2 separate regions of the Homo sapiens genome follow, and region 1 is linked to region 2. Evidence: fine-mapped expression QTL. A gene starts in region 2. The other region holds a variant in brackets. All regions are shown on one strand. Distances are between the middles of the regions.

Region 1 (5,374 bases), 54 kb after region 2:
TGACAGCACTCAGAAAACTGTTGAGGAGAAGATGCAATTCGAGGGTGCCATTACATTCCTGAGTCTTCTACTTGAGTCTGCATATTCTAGGAGCAGGCAGGTGATGTGAACTGGCTGACAGAAATGACCCAGGACAGAAGTCAGAGGCCAGAGCTGATGAAGGAGATTCTGAACACAAACTTTACCATACAGGAACTGAATTTCTACCCTGGGATGCCTGGATCGTGTCCTAAGGTTGGTGGGAATTGCCTCTGCTTTTGTTGACATGACATTGGAGTCGTGAGAATAACTGCTGATAGTATGGGAAAGCACTTGGAGGATGAATGGTACCAGGGACTTAAGACCAGTGTGTGCAGGAATGCAAGAGTCCTGGCCCCAAATCCAAACTCTGTCAGATGCAGCTCACTGGGGACACTCACAAATTCTGGATTGTAGCAGATCATGCCCAGCTGCATATGGTTGTCCATGGTCTGGTTCTCCAAAATGTCCACACGAATCTTCTCCTCTTCTGTCTCCCCACCTGCCACCCACAAAACACAGACTCAATCTCAGCATCACAGCCCAGCCAAGGAGGAGGCCACCTTCCCCCCACACATTGCAGCCACCCACACTCACACAGGTTGTGCTTGCGGGCAATGTAGCACAAGATGGCGTTGCTCTGGGTGATCTTGTGAGCCCCATCAATCAAGTAGGGCAGCTGGATGGATGGGAAACCGGCGAAGCTCAGTTGGGCCACCAGGCTCCCCAGCATCCCCTTCCCATAAGCAAGAGCAGAGAGGAGACCGGGCACTCACTGTGCCTGCTCATGGCAGGACTGAAATAAGAATACTGTCACATGAACGAATGCAGGTGGACACAGAACATCATGGAAGGACTGTTTAGACAGCCAGGAGTGAGAGGAATTGGGCAGAAGACTCCTGATCTTAACACCTCTAAGCTGGGGAGAGGAGATGCAGTCAGAGACACGTTGCACTTTCCCCCAAAACCGCCCCTTCCCCTGCACCTACATTGGGAAAGTCCAGGCCCAGCTTGAATTTTTCATTCAGCCACTGGCTTCTGTCATAATCAGGAGCTGTGGTGGGGAAGAAGAAGTGAAAACAAACCTCCCCAGAGCCCAGCCCTCCTTCCCGGGGACCCTCCCACGGAGCCAGTGGCAAGATCCCTGAGACAGGTGGATCTAGAATCTGACCACTCAGTCCCACATCCCAGGGTTCAGGGACAAAGAATCCCGCTGAGGGCTCTGGACCCCACACAGCTAAGGCTTCCAGGGTTTAGGCAAGCCCTGAGGGACACCCGTCCCAATTAGACAGGGGGCCCAGCATCCCACCCCAGCATTCTGCCTTGCAAGGCCAGAGGGCTCCCTCACCGGGGCTCAGGGAAGAGACAGCCTGCAGCTCCAGCAGGGGAGGCCTGCAGAGGCAGCCACAGGTGGCCACCATGGGTTGCTTGGTGCCAACTTAGCGTGAGTGGGCAGAGCCCGAACACGAGGGTGCCATTACCGTCCCCCATCGTGTACTTCTTTTCCTCATAGCTTGAGTCTGTGTATTCCAGGAGCAGGCGGATGGCGTGGGCCAGCTGGGAGAGATGGCCCGCAGGTCGCGTCAGAGATGGAGGGTCCCTGACTTTGTCTGCACCAGGGAAGCCCCCAGTTTACACTGCACGTACCCGTTGCCTCCTCTACCCGCCCACACCCCCAACACACACACAGCGGCATGCACAGGCCCTTCTGAGGCGGGCAGCCCTGAAGAGGAACGGTCCCTAGAGTCCGTCCCGCAGCTGCTTCGCACTTCCCTCCCCTGCGCCCTCGTCCCACCGTCCAGCGGACCCTCGCTCACCCCGCGGATGTCCCAGTACCCCAGTATCATGGGCATGGTGCTGGTTGGTGCGGATTCCGCAGACAGGCCTAAACCGAGCAGGGCTCAGAGTATAAGAGCTCCGGAGAGGGGACAGGCGGGGCCTTGCTGCGACCCCGCCCCTCGGCCCGCCACAACCCGAAAGGCGCCATTCTGGAGGCCCGGGAGAGGGCGCCTGGGGCTGCACTCAGTAAGACTTCCTCCCGCCTCCCAGGCCCGAGGGTTCCGGGAGCGAAGTCAGGGCGCCCAGAAGCCCAAGGCGGGGCTCGGCCTCGCCAGCTTCCCTACCCAGCCCTGAGGCTCCACGAGTCCATCCAGCCCTTGCTAGGTCCACAGCGACTTGGCTGTGCGCTTGAGACACCAGCCAGATCCTAACGGAGCAAAGCTCTTCTCCCTTCTCCTCCCTGCCCGC[G/A]GTGTCCCTCAGCCTTCTCTCCGCTGCCGAGTTCCCAAGGGCTCTGGGAGACTCCGGCTGCAGGGGTCAGACTAAAAAGTGGTGGCCCCAACCTGGGAATTTAATTCAGCCCCTGTCACTGTAAGAGCAGGACTTCCTCTGATCCGAAAGCTACTCCCAGGGCTTAGTCTCCCCTCTAGCCCCGCCTACACAGGAACAGTGTCAGTGGTATAGGAAGGACCCCCAGGAAAAGGGCCAGAGTAAAGGAAATGTGGTCTGTGTTTTCTGTTAGGGGCCCTCGGGTACTGAGTCCTTCGGTCATCTGGCTAAGTACTGTGTAAATTAGCCACTTCGTATTTTGGCACAATTTATGAATCGAAATCCAAGGATCAGATCCAGCAAGTTGGTGAGGTATCTGAGGTGCCCCCTAGAAATGTCCAGCCAGTCCACTAGGTGAACCTCACAGAGACCGGAACAGCAACAGCAACAGTGAGTGCAGTGGCCACAGAGAGCAGGCGAGGGAGGATGGAAGAACTTCCCGGACCAAACTGAGGGTCCGGCTGCTATTTCTCTAGGCCCAATAACGAGATGCAGATCAAATGGGGAGGAAGAGAGGTTTTATTTCTGCAACCGGTAACAGGGAGAAGGCCTAGAAATTACCACCAGACCAACTCAATATTACAAAGTTTTCCAGAGCATATATACCTTCTAAGGTATATGTCTACAAGTAAGTGTGCATTCATCTAAAGACATAAGTGATTAACTTCTTTAATCTGTAACTGAGGTCTGGGTCCTGAGGACCTTATTCTGGAGCCTCAGTCTATTTATTTAATCTAAATGGGTCCAGGTGCGGGGGATGATTACCCTTATCTTGTCTCCTGCTAAATCACGGAGGTTTGGGGAGTTCCTTCAGACGCCCAATAAACTTGTTTGTGGAGGCCTGGGGAGTTTCTTCAGACTCACAATAAAACTTGTTTAATTCTAAATAGGTCCTGTTAAGAATTCCTTCATTGTTTTGTCATGCTTTAAGGCCCAGGAAAGGCCTAAGCAAAACTCTTGGTGGGCTTTTGTTACATCCAGCCTCTGTATAAAGGTACTGGCTTTTTTCAGCTTTTAATATTTAACTTCACCACTCAGTCAGTACTGAAACAGTTGTTATGGAGGCCTGTGTTAGTGACGCCTGGCCTGCCACAGAACCTGTCCCTCAGAGAAGCCAGAACCCTGTCCTGCTGAGGAGGGAGGTCAGAGGATGGTGGCCAGAGAGGAGCCTGAGGGCTCCCCACAGGACCACAGGCAGGGACCCTCCCCTCTCCAGATCCACCATTCCGGACCTGGACCTGGCTCCTGACCCATGTGTGTTCTTCAGTATGAGACGGTGGCTCCAGTGGCCTTTGAAGTCACACCGTGATATGTGACCCATGGTACAACCTCCACGAGAACAATGTCCAACCTGCCAACTTTCTTCTTTCAAGGTAGAAGGAAGACTTTCAAAAGAGTTGTGCAATGGATTAGCCTGGGGTTGACTGCTTTAAAGGATATTGCAAATAATAATGGACATATGGAAATAGATGATAGACCTTTAATGAGAAATCATTTTGCAATGTAAACCAGGCTGTTGTGCTGCAAAAAAAGTAGTTTTTTTGTTTTGTTTTGTTTTGTTTTGTTTTGTTTTGTTTTTTGTAAATTAGCTAAAACATTGTTAGGACTCCAGAGGATGAACCCAGTATATCAAAAAAGTTTCAAACCACCTGGATAATGTGTGGTTTGGGGTTGAGTAAACAGGTAGACTTCATCACATCCCTATTAGGCCACAGAAATCAGGTGGTCAGCAGGTGGCTGCTAAGTTGGGGCACTTGGACACTGTGTCACTGAGGCTGGCAAGGCACAGTCCTTGTTGCAAACACTCCCCGCCCATCCAGACCTGGGCAGTACTCCCAGCTCAGATACCTGGCAGGTATCCATGTTTAGGAAGCAGTTTTGGCCTCACAGTGAACTCTTACATAGATTTTCCTGCATTGAGGCAATAGCACCAGCACAGACACAAGTGCCTGGCCCTAGGAAACATTATATTTCTCATTATGCATTAAGAGTTTATGATTCTGAGTTAATCCGTCTTGAGCTGTGAAAGATAAGATGTCTAGATCCAATTGAAAAAAAAAACGATTTTTTAAGAAAGCTAACACTCATGAGAATAATAATTTTGAAACACATAGAACCAGTACTGTTACATTAGTATTGTTTGAAATACTTGTTCCTTGGTGCCATAAAGAAATAGCACTTGAACATAAATTTAATTTCCTCAGCAAGGCTATTGGGGAACCTGCCCCCAATATTTCAACGTAGGTTCTTTCTATTTTCCATAAGTGTCAGCCAGCTGAGAAATAAAGAGAAAGAGTACAAAGAGAAGAATTTTACAGCTGGGCCGCCAGGGGTGACATCACATATCGGTAGGACCATGATGCCTGCCCGAGCCTCAAAACCAGCAAGTTTTTATTAAGGATTGCAAAAGGGGTGGTGGTGTACGAACAGAGGGTAGGTACGAAGATCACATGCTTTAAAGGGCAAAAAGCAGAACAAAGATCACATGCTTCTGAGGAAACAGGACAAAGGCAAAAGTAGAACTCCTGATAAGGGTCTATGTTCAGTGGTGCACATATTGTCTTGATAAACATCTTAAACAACAGAACACAGGGTTCAAGAGCAGAGAACCAGTCTGACCACAAATTTGCCAGGGCCAGGTTTTTTCCCCACCTGAGGGTACTGCAGGAGACCGGGGTGTATTTCAGTCCTTATCTCAACTGCATAGGACAGTCATTCATTCCCAAAGCGGCTGTTTATAGACCTCCCCCCAGGAATGCATTCCTTTCCCAGAGTATTAATATTAATATTCCCTGCTAGGAAAAGAATTTAGCAATATCTTCCCTACTTGCATGTCCATTTATAGGCTCTCTGCAAGAAGAAAAACATGGCTCTATTTTGCCCGACCCTGCGGACAGTCAGACCTTATGGTTGTCTTCTCTTGTTCCCTAAAAATCGCTGTTATTCTGTTCTTTTTCAAGGTGCACTGATTTCATATTGTTCAAACACACATGTTTTACAATCAATTTGTACAGTTAACACAATTATCACA
Region 2 (5,374 bases):
GGACTGTAAACTAGTTCAACATTGTGGAAGTCAGTGTGGCGATTCCTCAGGGATCTAGAACTAGAAATACCATTTGACCCAGCCATCCCATTACTGGGTATATACCCAAAGGATTATAAATCATGCTGCTATAAAGACACATGCACACGTATGTTTATTGCGGCACTATTCACAATAGCAAAGACTTGGAACCAACCCAAATGTCCAACAACGATAGACTGGATTAAGAAAACATGGCACATATACACCATGGAATACTATCCAGCCATAAAAAATGATGAGTTCATGTCCTTTGTAGGGACATGGATGAAACTGGAAACCATCATTCTCAGCAAACTATCGCAAGGACAAAAAACCAAACACCGCATGTTCTCACTCATAGGTGGGAACTGAACAATGAGAACACATGGACACAGGAAGGGGAACATCACACTCCAGGGACTGTTGTGGGGTGGGGGGAGGGGGGAGGGATAGCATTAGGAGATATACCTAGTGTTAAATGAGGAGTTAATGGGTGCAGCACACCAACATGGCACATGTATACATATGTAACAAACCTGCACATTGTGCACATATACCCTGAAACTTAAAGTGTAATAATAATAAAATTTAAAAAAAAGAAAGTAATGCAAAAACTGCAAAAAAAAAAAAAGAAAAAGAAAAGAAAATGGGCATAACACCTACTTCCTAAAGTTGTTGTGAAGCTTAAATTGGAATAAATTAGCTAACATACGTAAACACTTAGATATTGCCTGGCATATGATAGGTGCTCAATAAATGTTAATCTTATACCTCAGGTGAATTTGTGACTGGCCTTTTGCTTTCTTGGGAGGAGAGACACAGGCATTATAAATTTCACCTGTCCATGTGGTTTGTACTCTTCCTTTCTTCTGTTTAGCAAAATGCCCTTTTAAAAAGTCCCAACCTTGCTTCAGTTGAACTGATGGGCAAATGTGATTTCCCACACCTGAGCTAGGGGATCTAGGCTCTCAGACTGCCCTGAGAGCTGTGCTGCAGAGGCCTGGCCAGAACCCTCAGAGCAGCTCCGGACTCCTTCCTCTGTCACTCCTCCACATTCAACTAGAATCCTATGTCTCCCGAGTTGACCCTGTTGCAAATCTGTGCCCCTTTTCATTTGCATGGGCCCTGCCGAAATTCAGAAGCTTAGTTCTTCCCATGACTATAGGGGCCTCGGGCAGGTCTCTTGCTCTGTCAAGGTCAAAACCCCTACTTTCCTAAATTCAACCATTGATTCTCCATCTTCATCTTACTTGATCAGCCACACTTGACATAGTTGATCACTTCTCCCTTTAAACATCTTCACATGGCTTCTGGGACCTTTTGTTTTCCTCCTACCTCCCTGGCCACTCCTTTTCAGACTCCTTTGCTGGTTTGCTCTCATTTTTCCCTAACCTTTACATGTTGATATGCCAGAGCACCTCAAACCCTTAGACCTCATCTCTGCTACTCGTGCTCCCATGGTGATCTCATCTAGTCTCTGGTTTCAAACACAGAGTGATCACTCCTGTACTTGCTGTTTCCCTTTTCCTGGAGTTCTCTCTGCCTCCTGCAGGTAGGAAGTGATTCGAGATAAGAGAGGGAGAGAACTCTTCTGGCCAGGATAGAGGGTGATTCTGAGAAGGCTTCAAGGAAGAAGTGAGCATTTGAGCACGGCTACTTGAGGAAGGCTAGGCCATGGACATTAGGGTGCAGGCAGGAGCAGAGCAAACATGCTTGTAAAAGGAACAGCAATTATTCTGTTTTATATTTATATCAGCCCATGGTGGCCCCCACAGCAGAGTGGCTTGATCTCTCACCTCCTTCAGGTCTTTGTTTAAAGATTAACTTCTCCATGAGGCCTTCTATGAACATAACCTTTAAAAACATAAATCCCCTTCCTACTGGGACTCCCCCAGTTCCCACCCTGAGACCCCCTATCTCTCTTCTCGATTTTATTTCTCTCCATAGGATGTGTATCACCACCTGACTTACTAGCTATTTACTATATATTAGTTTATTTCTTCCCCATTAGAATGTAAACTTCCTGAGGGCAGGGATTTTGTCTGTTGAGTTCAGTTCTGTATCCCCAGCACCTAAAACAGTGCCTGTCCATAACAGGCATGTTAAACATTGTTGGACAGATGAATGAGTGAATGAAAAATGGTAGTACCTTTCCTCCTCCAGTCCATCCTACACAAAGAGGCAAGATTAATTTCCCTAAATGCGTGAGCATTAGGAAGTGGGAGGGATTGGAGGAGGAAATTATAATAAGGAATCCATAAATTACTTAAGCCCATAAAACAAAGGTAGGAAACATTCAAGATAAGAGACCTCTTCTGGCCAGGATAGAGGTTGGTTCTGAGAAGGCTTCAAGGAATAGGCAGACATTTCAGCAAGGCTGCTGAGGAAGGATAGGCTGTGGAAATTAGGATGCAGGTAGGAGGATCACAGAGCAAACACTCCAAGGTGGGAAATGCAAGTGTGTGTAGAAGGAACAGCAAGTATTGTTGGGTTGGGCTGGCTTATGAAGTTGTGACGGGCTGAGGGAGAGACAGGACTGGAAAAGCACGTTGGGGTCAGGTTGCAGAGGTCCTTGACTGACAGAGAGGGGAGCTTGGTCTGTGGGGAATCTTCTGCTCTGTGTGGTCAGAGGCTGGTCTGACTCTCCGGCCTTGCCCCAGTCTTCCTATCCTTCATCCAGCCCCGGCTGGCTCGGTAAAAACGGCGCGAATCTCGCTCTCCCTGGGTAACTAGGGTCCCCACTGCCTGGCTAGTGGTGCTTTTCGCGTCTTCACTGGCACCATTAATGAATGAAGTCTGGCTCCCACCCGCGGGGAAGGGAGGAGCCTCAACCTCGGGTCCTTTGCTCTCCTGCAGCACTCCTGCCCGGGTCCCGCCTCGGGGTCGCCAGGCCCTGAACCCCAACGCCGGCATTAGTCGCGCCTGCGCACGGCCCTGTGGAGCCGCGGAGGCAAGGGACGGAGAACGGGGCGGAGGCGGAGTCAGGGCGCCCGCGCGTGGGCCCCGCCCCCTTATGTCGGGTATAAAGCCCCTCCCGCTCACAGTTTCCCTAGTCCTCGAAGGCTCGGAAGCCCGTCACCATGTCGTGCGAGTCGTCTATGGTTCTCGGGTACTGGGATATTCGTGGGGTGAGTGCCGTCTCAACGGTAGAGCCGCTCGGTCAAAGAGACTGACGCGGAGAGGGCGGGTCTCTGGGTCCGCGATCTCCAGCAGGAGCAGCTCTACGCGGGAGCCTTTTCGAGCTGCCGAGCCACGGATGTCGACCCCTGCCCAGCCTCTGGGATCGCGGGCCCTGTGGGGAGGGGCGGAGGAGACCACGCCGGAGCCGGGCCTAGGGGCCGCTTAACCACCGCCCCGGCAGGACGCAGGGACTCGGCAGCCCCGGGCCGGGGAACGTTAGCGGGCGGGGGTTGGGAATGGGTGGGAGCTGCGCAGTCGCTGAACCGCTGTCTTCCCCAGCTGGCGCACGCCATCCGCCTGCTCCTGGAGTTCACGGATACCTCTTATGAGGAGAAACGGTACACGTGCGGGGAAGGTAATGCCGCTCCGCGTGCCCGTGCAGCCAAGCTGGCCCTCCACCTGCCCTGGTCTTCTTACGCCCAGAGGGTGGTGGCGTCGCGCCAAGGCCGGGTGGGACGTTTGCCCCAATCTGGGTGAATAGAGACACATCCTTTATCTGGAACTGGGGGTTCTCTTTTTAACATAGCCCAAACCCGTCTTAATGCTTAACCAAATAGGGCTCAGAGGCTCAATGGTTATGCTTTTGGGGCCTGGGAATTTGAGGTATTGGGACCAAGTCATTTCTTTAGATCTTTTGCTCTTGTCAGGTGGGGTATTAAGGAGGTTGGGTCCCACTTAATTCCGTCTCTTACAGCTCCTGACTATGATCGAAGCCAATGGCTGGATGTGAAATTCAAGCTAGACCTGGACTTTCCTAATGTAAGTGGCTTTAGTAGAGGTGGCGGGCAGAAGGGAAAGCCTTCAAGTATATCCATCCTTGCCTCTCTCCTGCCTGGTACAGAAGGATGCAAAATAGGGGATCTTAACCCGGATAGAATAAATAGAATTCAGGGGTCCTTGAACTGGATGGATATGTATTTTCATTCCCATTAACCACTAGCAAAAGTTATTTCCTTTTATTGTGAAGAGAGACAATAAGTGACATTGGTTATTAGCCATGTCTGTCACTTTGTCACTAGTAGAAATCAGGTATTTTCTTTTTTGTGTGTTTCTTGTTCTTTTGTTTTGAGACAGTGTCTCACTCTGTCGCTCAGGCTGGAGTGCAGTGGCGCAATCACAGCTCACTGCAGCCTCAACCTCCCAGGCTCAAGCAGTCCTCCCACCTCAGCCTCCCAAGGAGCTGGGACTACAGGCACACACCACTATGCCCAGCTAATTTTTGTATTTTTGTAAGAGACGGGGTTTTGCCATGTTACCCAGGCTGATCCTGAACTTCTGGGCTCAAACAGTCCTCCCACCTCGGCCTTCCAAAGTGTTGGGATTACAGGCATGAGCCACTGTGCCCAGCCTGAAATCAGGTAGTTTCATATTCTATAACATGCGTTGCAGATATTTTAAGTGATATTTATATACATGTAAGTAAATATATACATATAATGTTATTTACTTTGAGATTATGTTAGTCATTACATCTGCTTGCTATTTAATGCACTAATAGGCACATGTTACTCTTATTTGAATTTTTAAAAATATTTTTTGATTGTGTAAATTATCTATTTTGCTTCATGCATTTAACAACTTTATTCTGAGAAAAGGTCCATGGCATGCACATACACTCACACATACACACACCAATTTAAGAACCCCTGTCTAGAATCTTGTGGACCCAGTTGCTACCTTCTACTTATTTTCTTTTTTCTCCTAACACAGCATCTTCTCACTCTTGTTCACTGCCCTGCAAGTGTTCTTTTCCCCTGGAGAGAGAGGTAGGGAATCAAGAGAGAGGCAGGTTGTTCATTTGTCCTGTCCTTTTCCTTTCAGCTGCCCTACCTCCTGGATGGGAAGAACAAGATCACCCAGAGCAATGCCATCTTGCGCTACATCGCTCGCAAGCACAACATGTGTGAGTGGGGTAGGGCTGGTGAGGGACCCCAGGCTGGTAGTTTGTCTGAGAGTGGATGATGCCAAGGGTGATTTGTTGTCATTTGGCCTACAGGTGGTGAGACTGAAGAAGAAAAGATTCGAGTGGACATCATAGAGAACCAAGTAATGGATTTCCGCACACAACTGATAAGGCTCTGTTACAGCTCTGACCACGTGAGTTTCCTTAGCACACATCTGCTGAATGGAGTATCAGAAAAAGGGGTATTTAGGAACCCAAGGGTTATCTCTG

The links. PIP is the estimated chance that this variant, and not a neighbour inherited with it, causes the effect. A credible set is the group of variants that fine-mapping cannot tell apart.
Region 1: its variant is the best candidate, but not a certain one, in a credible set for the expression of GSTM3 in lymphoblastoid cells (GEUVADIS, PIP 0.88).

Annotation. Positions count from the first base shown.
Region 1 is chr1:109,684,371-109,689,744 of GRCh38, reverse strand. GSTM1 (glutathione S-transferase mu 1) reads right to left here and starts at 1,928. Exons shown (of 8, transcript NM_000561.4): 1 at 1,836-1,928; 2 at 1,500-1,575; 3 at 1,008-1,072; 4 at 616-697; 5 at 420-520. The coding sequence starts at 1,871. RefSeq lists an enhancer at 1,829-1,878. The variant G/A (reference allele first, on the strand shown) is at 2,266.
Region 2 is chr1:109,738,015-109,743,388 of GRCh38, reverse strand. GSTM3 (glutathione S-transferase mu 3) reads left to right here and starts at 2,351. Exons shown (of 9, transcript NM_000849.5): 1 at 2,351-2,436; 2 at 2,878-3,149; 3 at 3,481-3,556; 4 at 3,896-3,960; 5 at 5,023-5,104; 6 at 5,198-5,298. The coding sequence starts at 3,102. RefSeq lists a silencer at 2,912-3,141.